Homo sapiens: one gene and its partners. The gene in region 1 interacts genetically with each later gene. Each region holds a gene or a part of one and is shown on either strand. Other genes may lie near its edges.

Evidence for each region.
Region 2: changes in KIF14 (region 1) and SNRPG together harm fitness less than expected from each alone (positive genetic interaction), as found in Homo sapiens cells (one large-scale study listed by BioGRID).
Region 3: changes in KIF14 (region 1) and ERH together harm fitness more than expected from each alone (negative genetic interaction), as found in Homo sapiens cells (one large-scale study listed by BioGRID).
Region 4: changes in KIF14 (region 1) and PPP2R1A together harm fitness more than expected from each alone (negative genetic interaction), as found in Homo sapiens cells (one large-scale study listed by BioGRID).

Annotation. Positions count from the first base shown.
Region 1 is NC_000001.11:200,614,252-200,617,751, reverse strand, and holds part of KIF14 (kinesin-like protein KIF14), read left to right. Parts: coding exon 1-140; intron 141-2,142; coding exon 2,143-2,397; intron 2,398-3,346; coding exon 3,347-3,434; intron 3,435-3,500. UniProt on the Homo sapiens protein: Microtubule motor protein that binds to microtubules with high affinity through each tubulin heterodimer and has an ATPase activity. Plays a role in many processes like cell division, cytokinesis and also in cell proliferation and apoptosis.
Region 2 is NC_000002.12:70,283,741-70,287,240, forward strand, and holds part of SNRPG (small nuclear ribonucleoprotein G), read right to left. Parts: exon of another isoform or gene 3,458-3,500; intron 1-3,457. UniProt on the Homo sapiens protein: Plays a role in pre-mRNA splicing as a core component of the spliceosomal U1, U2, U4 and U5 small nuclear ribonucleoproteins (snRNPs), the building blocks of the spliceosome.
Region 3 is NC_000014.9:69,391,800-69,395,299, forward strand, and holds part of ERH (enhancer of rudimentary homolog), read right to left. Parts: intron 3,114-3,500; coding exon 3,026-3,113; intron 1-3,025. UniProt on the Homo sapiens protein: May have a role in the cell cycle.
Region 4 is NC_000019.10:52,224,552-52,228,051, reverse strand, and holds part of PPP2R1A (serine/threonine-protein phosphatase 2A 65 kDa regulatory subunit A alpha isoform), read right to left. Parts: intron 2,336-3,500; coding exon 2,244-2,335; intron 2,088-2,243; coding exon 2,071-2,087; 3' UTR 1-2,070. UniProt on the Homo sapiens protein: The PR65 subunit of protein phosphatase 2A serves as a scaffolding molecule to coordinate the assembly of the catalytic subunit and a variable regulatory B subunit.

The DNA of each region.
Region 1 (3,500 bases):
AAACAGGAAAGATCCGCAGAAAATACAATTCTTCCCGAAGAAGAAACTGTAGTTCAGAACACCTCTGCAGGAAAAGACCCCTTAAAAGTAGAGAATAGTCAAGTGACAGTGGCAGTACGCGTAAGACCTTTCACCAAGAGGTATGTGATGCCTTTTAAAATCTAAAGCCAAGCAGTTACATGTAAGGTACCTTTAATTCCTCTCTGCCTTTGGAAGGTCAGTGTATTCGTGCATCTTCAAACTTGTTGGCAATACTTTTATATAGAAAGAACTTTTAGGTCTAGTTGTAGTGTGTGTTGATAATTTTTGATCACTGACTATAAAATTAAAAAATTGAATCACCATATTTTGTATATTGAAGTTTCTCTAGATATATTGCTTTTAAAAAGTCTGAATAAGTCACTTAGGTCTCTAATGAAATCTGCTTTCAGATCTGCAATATATGCTGGAATGTTATACCTATCCCTTAAAAAGAGCCATAACAGGCCAGGTGTGGTGGGTCACGCCTGTAATCCCATTGCTTTGGGAGGTCAAGGCAGGCAGATCACTTGAGGCCAGGGGTTTGAGACCAGCCTGGCCAATATGGTGATACCCTGTCTCTACTAAAAATACAAAAATTAGCTGGGCATGGTGTTGCACACCTGTAATCCCAGCTACTCGGGAGGCTGAGGCAGGAGAATCACTTGAACCCGGGAGGCAGAGGCTGCATTGAGCTGACATCAGGCCACTGCACTCCAGCCTGGGCGACAGAACGAGACTGTCTCAAAAAAAAGAAGAGCCATAACAAATTACTGGTTCCCTAAAGAGGTCCTTTCAAAACCCTTTCCAGAGTGGTGATTATCATCATCATTGTCTCCGATTACTATATAGTAGTTATAAATGCAGTGATACATTAGATTTGATTTTGATGGCAAAAAATCTCTCTCTAAAAGTGGTTGTGGGTGGGGAAGACACAGATTAAAGATAAGGTTGGAAAAGATGGACATGACAAAATGTGAATGTGACAAAATGTAATTGTTTTAAAATATTTTAATGTAGTTGTTTAAAATATTTTAAGGGACAGTGAAAAACTTCACAGAGTTAGTAGTGTTTAACTTGAAGCTGTGTATCTAAGCAAGTTAGAAGAGGATTTGGTGACCACTGCATCAGGGCAGGAACCTCCAGTTTGAACCTAAGGGGTCAGTAGTTAAAGGCAAGTTATACAGTACTGTAGAATCTTTTTCGTGCAAATGGGTTAGTATTAAGAGGGAGAACTGAGGGTGAGTTGGTTTGAGAGAATTGGAATGTCTAATAGAGCCTCAAGAACCATGATAGGAAGAGAAACAATAGAAAGAGCTGGTAGGGACAAAATGCAAGATGGATGACTATACTGAACTTAGTAAGGGACCAAGTGCCTGATTCCAAACTCATCAGACAAGCCTTGAAAGCAGGGCCAGGGTAGAGTACTTGTCAAATTGATGAGGCAGGTGTTTTTTCCAGAATAAATTCTGATTTAAAGCAGTCTCAGAGTCAGGGATGGAGCGGGGAGGGAGTGTATATCTGGAGCCAGACAAAGAGTGATGATGTTTTTCTGTAGATCTAAAGTAAATGAAAGATTTCCACCTAAGTCTCAAAGGGAAAAAGGATATACAGAAAGATTCATGATTTTAAGGGAGAGAATCTAGAGGAAGGAGGAGAGATCTTTAGTAGCCAAGAGAGACTTATGATTGAAACTTACAGTCAACTGAGTTTGTTAAAATTAGATATTTGTATTTTATGCCAGCTTTATTTAGATTGGTACCCCCCCAAATTTGTATAATAAAGATGTAGATTTGGATGAAGAGTATAGGTAGATTATAGTAGGTGGGATGGGAAAAGGTATAGTTCAAGAGAAAAAAAAAAGAGGAAAAAATCTTGTAAAAGTAGGATAGGTTTTCTGGAGGAATCTGGGATTTTCCCTTTGGTGGCACTGGAGCCTCAGGAAATATATTTTGGAAACCCACTAGAATTATGTTTGCTTATCTGCATTTTCCACATAAAACTACAGAATTATCTTGCCTTGGAAGATTGTTTAAATAGTTTTGAGGTATTTATTATGTTCTGTGAGAATAATACCCTTGATCATTTTAGTTACTTGATTTTTTTCTTTGTGCTTCTTTCAAGAGAGAAGATTGAAAAAGCATCCCAGGTAGTCTTCATGAGTGGGAAAGAAATAACTGTGGAACACCCTGACACGAAACAAGTTTATAATTTTATTTATGATGTTTCATTCTGGTCTTTTGATGAATGTCATCCTCACTACGCTAGCCAGACAACTGTCTATGAGAAGCTAGCAGCACCACTCCTAGAAAGAGCCTTCGAAGGCTTCAATACCTGTCTTTTTGCTTATGGTCAGACTGGCTCTGGAAAATCATATACGTAAGTTGTATTGGAAATGCAATTATCCAGAAGTGTTTAAATATACTTTTGTGAGAAGTGGCATAGGGGTGATAGAAAGAATATAGTTTTGAAATCACACAGATCTTGGCCCAAATCTCATCCATTTTATATACCAGTTCTGCAAACTTGGGCAATTTACTTAGCCTCTGGGCTTCAGTTTATACATTTACCTTGATACAATTCATCTTGTAATTATCATTGGCCCCATTTTACTGTACTTTATATATTTTACATAAACTAAGGCCTAGAGAGGTTATCTTTTAAGTATTTTGGTGAGAATTAAAAGTAAGGCATCTAAGCTAGATGTGATGGCACACACCTGTAGTCTCAGCTACTTGGGAAGCTGAGGTAGGAGGATTGCTTAAGTGCAGGAGTTCGAGTCCAGCCTGGGCAACTTAGTCCCCATCTCTTAAGAAAAAAGGGTGGAGGGGCATCTGATAAATGGTAGCTATGATAATAATACCTGTCCTAGAAAGAAATACTCAGCATTTTAACAGTAGCTAACATTTGAGTTCTTTTTTTTTTTTTTTTTTTTTTTTTTTTGTAGCAAGGTTTGTTGTGAAGAGCGAAAGAACAGAGCTTCCACAGTCCACAGCGTGGAGGGGTCCCAAGCGGGTTGCCCAACATTTGAGTTCTTACTATATTCCAGACACTGTGCTAAAGACTTTGCTTATATTCTTTCACAACAATTCTCTGAATTAGATAGTTGTATTATTCCTGTTTTACAGTAGAGGAAATTGAAGTTTAGTGAGGTTAAATATCTTGGAGTCAAGATTTGGACTCAGGCAGATTTGACTCCAGAGTCCAGATTCTTAATTATGAGATTCAGTGAACTTGCTTCCTACTCCCTTCCCAGCCTATTTCCCCAAAAAGAATTTTAAAGAAAGAATTAGTTTTATTTCCCCCTTATTCATAATGTATTTTTCAGGATGATGGGATTTAGTGAAGAACCAGGAATAATTCCAAGATTTTGTGAAGATCTTTTTTCTCAAGTAGCCAGAAAACAAACCCAAGAGGTATGTTCTTATAATACCTGCAAGCTTCTTTTCAGAGTAGAAAATAGTCAAATCAAGTTCAAATCA
Region 2 (3,500 bases), on another chromosome or scaffold:
ATGATAAGGTAGTAAAGAGCAGATTTAAAAAAGAATGGCTGGGCATGGTGGCTCACGCCTATAATCTCAGCATTTTGAGAGGCCCAGGTGGGCAGATAGCTTGAGCCCAGGAGTTTGAGACCAGCCTGGGCAACATGGTAAAACCCTGTCTCTACAAAAATACAAAAATTAGCTGAGGGTGGTGGTGCACACCTGTGGTTCCAGCTACTCGGGAGGCTGAGGTGGAAGGATCAACTGAGCCCAGGGAGGTTGAGACCACAGTGAACCAAGCTCCATGCTACTGCACTCCGGCCTCGGTGACAGAGTGAGACCTTATCTCAAACCAACAACAAAAACCAGTAAACACAGTGCCCTGAAAATGACAATGGGAACTGAAAGAGTCTAAAGATTGACACTCTTCTTCTAAGTTAACAGAGCTCCCCTCCATTTTTTTGAGACTGGGACTAGCTATGCTGACCAGGCTGCAGTGCAGTGGCTATTCACATGCACAATCACTGCACACTGCATCCTCGAACTCCTAGGCTCAAGTGGTTCTCCTGCCTCTGCCTCCTGAGTAGCTGGGACTATAGGCGCACATCACCATGCCCAGCATAAGCCAGGAGTAGAAACATGCTTACCTAGTTATCAGAATTTTATTTTCATTTTAATTATTATTTTTTTTGAAACAGGGTCTTGCTCTGTCACCCAAGCTGGAATGCAGTGGTTCAATCACAGCTAACTGCAGCCTTGACCTCCTGGGCTCAAGTGATCCTCCCACTTCAGCCTCTCAAGTAGCTGGGACCAGAGGCATGAGCCACCAAGCTGGGCTAATTTTAAAATTTTCTGTAGAGACAGGGTCTCACCATGTTGCCCAGGCTTATCTCAAACTCCTAGTCTCAAGTGATCCTCCTGCCTTGGCCTCCCAAAGTGCTGGGATTACAGGTGTGAGCCACTGTACCTGGCCAGTTATCAGAATTTTAAATTCTCAATTTTTTTTTTGGCAACAGATATTGAACATCACATCTCATTGACCAAAGCAAGAAAAGCTAGCCTTCCTGCCTAGCTCCCTGCTAAATTTACATATTTGTCTTGTCACATAATATTTAGAAAATAAGGCTAAATGGTGAACTTTGTCCCACCTTATCTGTGGTCCAAAAACATTAAATGCATAGTCCCAGCAACAGACATCCGTAAGTTTTACACTGCATGCTGTTCTTAGCAGTGTGATGATACCTCATACTGTCCCTGGATGTGGATTATCCTTTGTCTAGCATCTCCATGCTGCCCATTAATCAGTTATCTCAGTTTTATGATTGACTGTTGTGGTATCAAAGGGTTACTTGTGTTCAAGTAACCCTTTTTTTAACTTAATACTAGCCTGAAAGTATAAGAGCAGTGATGCTGGCAATATGGATATGCCAAAGAGAAGCTGTAAAGTGCTTCCTTTAAGTGAAAAGGTACAAGTTCTTGACTTAATAAGAAAAAGAATCATATGTTGAGACTGCCAAGATTTATGGTAAGGACGAATCTTCTATCTGTGAGATTGTGAAGAAGTAAAAAGAAGTTCGTGCTGGCCAGGCGCGGTGGCTCACGCCTGTAATCCCAGCACTTTGGGAGGCTAAGGCAGGTGGCTCATGCGGTCAGGAGTTTGAGACCAGCCTGGCCAACATAGTGAAACCCTGTCTCTACTAAAAATACAAAAATTAGCTTGGCGTGGTGGTGTGCGCCTGTAGTCCCAGCTACTCGGGAAGCTGAGGCAGGAGAACTGCTTGAACCCAGGAGGCGGAGGTTGCAGTGACCCGAGACCACACCATTGCACTCCAGCCTCGGTGACACAGTGAGACTCTGTCATACACACGCGCGTGCACACACACACACACAGAAATTTGTGCATAGGGTTCACTACTATCTGTGGTTTCTGGTACCTACTCTGAGGATAAAGGAGGCCTATTGTAGTGCTCTTCCTCTTTTGCCACTGTGTTTGAGGCCTAATTCTCCAAATCAAACTTGAACCATCAGGTCCAGAATTACATACTGCTCCCTTTTTTGTGCTTCAATGATGCTACAGAAGGACAACCCTAGCAAGAGTGCCTGAACTATGTAACATAATAAAAAGTAAGATAGAGGCGATGCCACTGACAACTCTGGGGATGTCTCAGAAGATAGTTGAGATTTATCATTAGGTAACGATCCAACTGACAGGTTAAAAACAAACTCACTCCTGAAAACAAACACATCCTTTTTGAGACAGGATCTCGCTTTGTCACAAAGATTGGAGTGCAGTAGTGTGATCTCAGCTCACTGCAGCTTTGACTTCCTGCCTCAGCCTCCTGAGTAGCTGGGACTACAGGTGCACACCACCATGCCCGGCTAATTTTCTAATTTTTTTGTAGAGATGAGGTCTCACTATGTTGCCCAGGCTGATCTCAAACTCCTGGGCTCAAGTGATCCTCCTGCTTCAGCCTCTCGAAGTGCTGGGATTATAGATGTGAGCTACTGTGCCCAGCCAACACACACATAACTGCAATAAAACAGTATTAAGTAATTTCAATGGCCTCAATGGATCACTGACTTGGACAAGGTAATAATGAAGCCAACTGTCCTTTGTTAAACAACTTCTAACAAAATAACAAAACCTTAACCTATTTGTTTCCCTTCTTCCAACTTTAGAAAAGTCAAAAAGTTCATCTCTGTTCTTGCCTTTTAAAATGTCTTTTATTAAAGAAGTCTGATGTGTTATTATTTCTTTTTCAAAGTGAAGACTCAGCAGCAAGAATTACTGTCTGCTGATAAAAACTTTTTTTTTTCTTTGGCTGGGGGTTGGGGGGCGTGTGTGTCACATAAACCTCAGAGATGGAACAGGAGGCTGCCCAACACACTAAGTAGGTAATCATTACTTAAATGACTTGGGATGGCAGTGCTTTCAACCAATTTCTGTGCAAAGAAAATAAAGTCCATAAAGTTTAGGGGGAAAATTGCCAGAGGGATGCTCTATTCCTTCTCTGATAAAATTCCAATGAGCAGTGTGTTACATAATTCTCTAATCTTCTCAAAGCAGAATTGACAATTAGGTGCCAAGTTCTTCCTGAATCCTTTTCAGCAAATTTTTTGCAAGGAACTAAAAACCTAATCTACCTTCTATTAGAATGAAAATTTATTTGTAAAAATAAGGGCTGAGAGGAAAATCTTGGGGTATCTAGAAAATGTTTTTAAAAGGACTTGGCTACTAATCATGCTGGCAGCCTTATTCAACAGAAGCTCACAAGGGAATATACCTGAAAGACAAGTCAATTTACATGAAACTTGGGGGTACAGTGTGGTATCTGGAGACTCTAAACTGTTTTTTCAGTCATAACTATTGATTTGCTTTTCAAAATACAGTAATGAAAAAGTATCTGAAATAAGTAATAACACAAACCTTGGAAAGAATGGTATGTAAAAAAATTAAACAGGCAGAGATGTCAAAATAGGTCTATCTTCAACTTTACTGCTCAAACTTAAAAATCAAGGTTAATAAATCA
Region 3 (3,500 bases), on another chromosome or scaffold:
GTGGCAGGGAAGGAGGTATAGGTGGAGCAATGGGGATTTCTGGTAGTGAAACTACTCTGTATGATACAGTAAAGGTAGATACACGTAATTATACATGTCAAAACCCACAGAATGTTCAACACATACAGTAAACCCTAACATAAACTGCGAACTTTAGTTAATAATAATCTATGAATATTAATTCACCAATCCCAACAAGTGTAATCAGACTAATAGAAGATGCACTAATAGGGGAAACTAAGAAGGGGAGGAAAGAAGGCGTATGCTGGAGCTCTGTACTTTCCAAACAATTTTCCCATAAGCCTAAAACTGCTCTAAAAACATGGTCTTAAATAAAGTCTTTAACTGCTCTTAAAAAAAAGGGGGGAGGAAAAAAATGCTCTGATCTACAGGGGAATATTTACTACAAGAAAAAAAAAAAAAGAATAATAAAATTACCATTTGGCAACCACATCATGTGAGAACTTATTTAATAATTATTTTAACATTTTTTTGTTTTAGTTTTTTAAATGGGAAATAAATCACCACTTTTAATTTTTAGAAAAAGAGCTACCAAGTCATGAAAAGACATGGGGGAAACATAATAAATGCACATTGCTAAGTAAAAAAAGCCAGTTAAGAAAAAGCCACACACGATAATGATTCCAACTATATGACATTCTGGAAAAGACAAAACTATGGAGACAGTAAAAAGACCAATGGTTCCCAGAGGTTGAGGGTGGGGTAGGAGGGGATGAATAGGTAGAGCACAAGAAATGTTTAGGGCAGGGCAGTGAAACCATTCTGTGTGATGCTGTAATGGCGGACACATGACACTGCGCATTTGGGAAAATCCACAGTAATGTAGGACATAAGAATGAAACCTAGTATGAACTATGAACTTTACTTAATGACAATGTATCAGTAATGAATACTGGTTCACCACTGTTACAAATGCACCACACCAGTGAAATTCATTAATAATAGGGGAAATTGTGTAGGGGTGAAGAAAGAGAGTAATATCGGAAAAACTGTAGTTTCTGTTCAATTTTTCTAGAACCCTGAAACTGCCCTGAGAAATAAGAGTATTGCAGAATCAAAGACCAAACATGATAATGTAGGTTAGGTAACAATTTGCTAAGAGAGCCTGCATACAAAATCTACATCAATAGCAGGCAGAAATGTCAGCAGAGAAATGGATCTGTAAAGAGATGAAGAAAAAAATGCCATGTTCTTCTTTAAGAATTAGAGTAGATGGCCTGGAGTGGTGGCTCACGCCTGTAATCCCAGCACTTTGGGAAGCCGAGGTGGGTGGATCACTTGAGGTCAGGAGTTCGGGACCAGCCTGGCCAACGTGGCGAAACCCTGTCTTTACTAAAAATACAAAAATTAGCTGGGCGTGGTGGCACACACCTGTAGTCCCAGCTACTGAGGAGACTGAGGAAGGAGAATCATTTGAACCAAGAAGGCAGAAGTTGCAGTGAGCTGAGATGCACCACTGCACTCCAGCCTGGGCGACAGAGTGAGACTCTGTCTCAAAAAACAAAAAGAAACAAAGACACCTGCACTCATACGTTTACGGCAGTACTATACACAACAGCAAAGTCATGGAATCAACTACGTATCCATCAATGGATGACTAGACAAAGGAAATGTGGTGTATGAGAATGCATGCACACACATCCCATGGAATACTACTCAGCTATTAAAAAAAGAATAAAACCATGTCTTTGCAGCAACATGGATGGAATTGGAGGTCATTATCTCAAGTGAAGTAACTCAGAAAGTCAAACATTTAATGTTCTCATTTATTAGTGGAGGCTAAATGATGTGTGCACATGGACAGACAGAGTGGAATAACTGACACTGGAGACTACAAAAGGTGGGAGAATGGTGAGGGATGAAAAATCACTACTGCGTACAATGTACACCAGGTGATGGCTACAATAAAAGCCCAGACTTGGTTGGCGCGGTGGCTCATGCTTGTAATCCCAGAACTTTGGGAGGCTAAGGCAGGAGAACTGCCTGAGGCTAGAAGTCTGAGACCAACATGTGCAACACAGTGACCCCATCTCTATAAAAAAACCAAAAAATTAGCCAGGTGTGGCGGCAGGTGCCTCTAGTCCCAGCTATTTGGGAGGCTGAGGCAGGAGGACTGCTTGAGCCCAGGAAACTGAGACTGCAATAAGCCATTATCACCACTGTACCCCAGCCTGGGTGACAGAGCAAGACCCCGTGTCTTAAGGAAAAAAAAAAAAAGGCCCAGACTTTACTACTATGCCATATATCTATATAAGAAGACTACACTTGTATCCCTTAAATCTATTAAAACAACCTATTAAAAACAGACAGACACACAAGCCTATAGTGTTTGAGCTTAACCAGAATATATAAGGGATACCTGTAAAATATTTCCATACTGTAACAAAATAACATGTGACAAATAAGAAGAGAATATTTATAAAACAACAAGCAGCTCTGGAAAGTCACTCATTATATACATTAGTTTAAAAAAAAAAAACACCTAATACTTGTAGCAAGGAGGATACTATATACATAATTAATGTTTAAAATGTTCAACCGGCCAAGGCGGATTACTTGAGGTCAGGAGCTCGAGACCAGCCTGGCCAACATGGTGAAACCCCATCTCTACTAAATACACAAAAAATTATCTGGGTGTGGTGGCCCATGCCTGTAGTCCCAGCTACTTGGGAGGCTGAGGCACAAGAGAATCACTTGAACCTGGGGGGCGGAGGTTGCGTAAGCCGAGATCGCATTACTGCACTCCAGTCTGGGTGATAGAGCGAGACTCTGTCTCAAATAATACATAAATAAACAAACAAATAAATAAAATGTTCAATAATTATGGTCCATCCTAAATATCTGCTTTCCCTCCTAAAATTAGCAATTCAATAAATTTGGAGGGTTGGAAGTGATAAAGGCAGGGCCTGGGGTGGATGGACTATTAAAAAAAAAAAATTTGGAGGGGAAAAACCCAGTTCCTAAATGAGACATTTTTCTACCCCTTGATTAGTGTTAAACTCACCTTCCATGCATTCATTCACAGATTCGTAGTCAGCATAAGTTCTGCCTTCTGGCCTCTTGGTAGGCTGTACCAGCAAAATGGTGTGAGACTGCAGGGGAAAACATGATTTCAATATAAGTTTCTATTTGAGAAATTCATAGTATGATAAAAAAAAATCCCCATTTGTAATGCAATAATGATTGCTAGTTATTAAAATGTAATTAGAGAGGCCAGGCATGGCATCCCATGCCTATAATCCTCATCCTCTGGGAGGCTGAGAGGGGGAAAATCACTTGAGGCCAGAAGCTTGAGACCAACCTGGGCAACATAGCAAGACCCTGTCTCTACAAAAAAATAAAATTTGCCGGGTGCATGCCTGTAGTCCCAGCACTTTGGAAGTCTAAGGCAGGAGGATTCCTTGAGCCCAGGAGGCTGAGACTGCAGTGTGCCATGATCACACCATTGCATCGGAGAGTGAGGCCCTATCTCTTAAAAG
Region 4 (3,500 bases), on another chromosome or scaffold:
GAAAAACTGGGTTAGTATTTAAGGCAGGACTTCTCTAACTTCAGTGTGCAGATGAACCTGGGCATCTTGTTAAAATGAAGGCTCTGCCTGAGCAGGTCGGGGCAGGGACGAGAGGCTCTGCATTTCTAACAAGCTCCTGAGAATGCAAAGGCTGCTGGTCCACTGCACTCTTGTTACAATGGACCAGCAGCGTTAACCATGGGGAAAGTCAAAGTTTAATGTCAGACTTTGACGTTTGGTTACACGTGTGTTCACATTTCTAGAGCAGTAGTTCTCAACTGGGAGAGAGTTTATCGCCCAGGGCATAAATGGAAATTTCTAAAGATGCTTTTTGGTCTCCTTCAGCCTCATCCCCTAGGGCACAATAAAGTCTAACAAAGGGTAGGGATGTGGTAATATGAAGGCTGAGCTGGTGAAATCACCTTGTCACTCAAAGCCACATTTCCCTTCCACCACCTGGGTCAAAATGTGCTCAAGCATCATTTCCTCTGTGAAACCCTTCCATGCAGACACCACCAGCCATACGTCCCTTGCTCCTTTCTCCAGGGTGCTCTGGGCCCCTCCCTCCATCAGTTAGAATTCCGGTCACCTTCAAGTGATGAAACCCTAAACGAACAGGCACTTGACCAGTTTAATTCTCCCAGGTGACAGTACTGGCATGGCTCTTCACAGCCTCGGGGAGGCAGGCTCCTTCTCTCTTGTCCTGCCTTACTTGACCTTCACGCCTAAGATCATTTTCTGGCCCCAGGTGGCAGCTCCTACTCCAGCCATCTGGTCCACATTCCAGAGTGCAGGAAGGAGGAAAGGTGGGGGATGACGCCTTCCCCCTTAAGAACACTTCCTAGAAGCTGCATATACCACTTCTGTTCAACATCTTTTTGGCTAGAATTTGGTCACAATACCACACCTAATTTCAAGAGACACTAGGAAAATACCTTGAATCCATGTAGTCATCTGCCCAGTTAAAAATCAGAGCTTCTACATTAGGAAGGGGAGAATAGATACCGAGATAACTGATCTATCTTGCCACAGTTCTCTCCCTAGTACCGTCCTGATTACTCTGAGACCTCCTGGGGACAGGGTCCAAGCCCAAGTCTTCTTCAAGAACACAGGAAATGGCCCACAGGGGGTTCTCTGGCAATGTACAGCTAACTCTGCTTCTCATGTTGTGTACTTCTCATGTTGAAACTGTTACACACTTTCCAGGTACTAATTCACTTGGTCCTCGCCACCCACCCTGCAATCTAGGTATTACTGTAACTCTCATTTTACACAATACAAAACTGAGCTCATAAAGACTTAACAAGCTACTCCTAGTCACACGTCTATTAACTGAAGGAGCCACAATTTGGACCCAGGCAGTCTGGTTCCAAGGCACCTGCTCTTAACCCCCCAAATACTCGGCCGACATCTATGAATCTGAACTGCACTACAGGACACCACCCAGAGCACCTCATGGACCCTCTACCCCAAAGGCCAGCAGCACTCCTGGGGGGATCCCCAGAGTATTCTTTCGGGACATAGGGGTATAATGGGTCCTGTAACAAGATCTTCTCCAGAGAAAAGCGCAGATGTTGTGGCTCTGGGGTGGTGCCCCCTCCTCCAAGCTGATGACTAAGGCCAGAGGACCAACTACTTCTAGACCTTTATTTCTCTGTGAAAAGGGGGAAAATAAAAGGAATAAAATAAAAACGGCACAGTTGACACACAAAAAAAAACCAATGATGGGGAGGACGGGAGGTGGAGAAGTAAATGGGGGAGGGGTTCCCATTACAGCAGCAGGATCCAGTGACCCGGGATGCTCACATCTCTCCCTGACGTGGGCGGAGTAGCCCCTTCCTCCCAAGGTCACTGTCCTGTCCAACCCCGTGCTCCCCTAGCCCGTTGGGAGGTGGACAGTGAGACATCTTCCCAGGCTGGGGAGAGGAGGAACCGTGCTGGGGGAAGGGGCCTGGGGTCAGACCATGCACAGGGAGTGACAGCCAAAGGCCCCCCAGTGTCTCCCCAAAGAGGGACTTGTGGGGGTTGGAGGGTGGACACCAGAGGCCAGTGTTTGCTCCTCTTCCAGCATCAGGCGAGAGACAGAACTAGGAAAACAGGAACAGGCAAGAATCAGAACCAGAGCCCTCTCTCTGCCCACAATGCCAAGGTACCTCCCCCTCCCAGAAGCTGCTGCCCACAGGCCCAGTGCCTGTCCTCAAAGTCCACCCTCCTGCTAGGGCTCCGTGCTTTCTAGGTCTTACCAGTCAGAGCCTCCTGGGCAAAGTATTTGACGTCCACATCCTGGTCCTGGGTCAGCTTCTCTAGGATGGGCTTGACTTCACTCTGCAAGGTGCTGGAAAGCGAAAGGAGACAGGGAGAGAGAGGGTGAGCCAGGATGGACTGGGGCAACAGGTGGGCACAGGGCTCTTGGGCAAGAGAGTGTACACAGACACGGATACACCAAACCCAAGGTGGGAGGAGTCTCAAGAATCCAGGGCACACACAGGAATTAGAAATCTCTGATCACTGCACAGGCGGGTGACCATAGTTAATAATAACATTTTGCATATTTCAAAACAGCTATAAGAGAAGATTTTGAATGTTCTCATCACAAAGAAACAGTAAACATTTAAGGTGATAGATATGCTAATTATCCTAATTTGATCATTACACATTTGCACACATTATTGAAACACTACTATACCCCCATAAATATATAAAATTATGAGTCAATTAAAAGTAAAATCAGGCCGGACGTGGTGGCTCACATCTGTAATCCCAGCATTTTGGGAGGCCAAGGTGGGTGGATCATCTGAGGTTGGGAGTTTGAGACCAGCCTGGCCAAACCAACATGGAGAAACCCTGTCCCTACTAAAAACACAAAATTAGCAGGGCGTGGTGGTGCACGCCTGTGATCCCAGCTACTTGGGAGGCTGAGGCAGGAGAATTGCTGGAACCTGGGAGGCGGAGGTTGTGGTGAGCCAAGATTGCATCATTGCACTCCAGCCTGGGCAACAAGAGCGAAACTCCGTCTCAAAAAAAAAAAAAAAAAAAAAAAGGTAAACTCAAGGCCGAGCACGGGGGCTCAAGCCTGTAATCCTAGCACTTTGGGACGCCAAGGTGGGCAGACCACTTGAGGCCAGGAGTTCAAGACCAGCCTGGACAACATGGGAAAACCCCCATCTCTACTCAAAGTACAAAAATTAGCCAAGCATGGTGGTGCACACTTGTAATCCCAGCTACTTGAAAGGCTGAGGCACAAGAACTGCCTGAACCCAGGAGGCAGAGGTTGCAGTGAGCCGAGATCGCACCACTGTACTCCAGTCTGGGCGACAGAGCGAGATTCTGCCTCAAAGGAAAACCAAACAAACTGCAAAAAACCAACCAACCAACCAATTACTTAAAGGTCAGAAGTATGATAAACAAGGACTGGGGCCCCAAACAGGGAGATCAGAGCAGGCTGGGAAAGTGGAACAGAATCTCAGAACCCCCAAGTCTCTGAGGCCCAGCAAATGGGT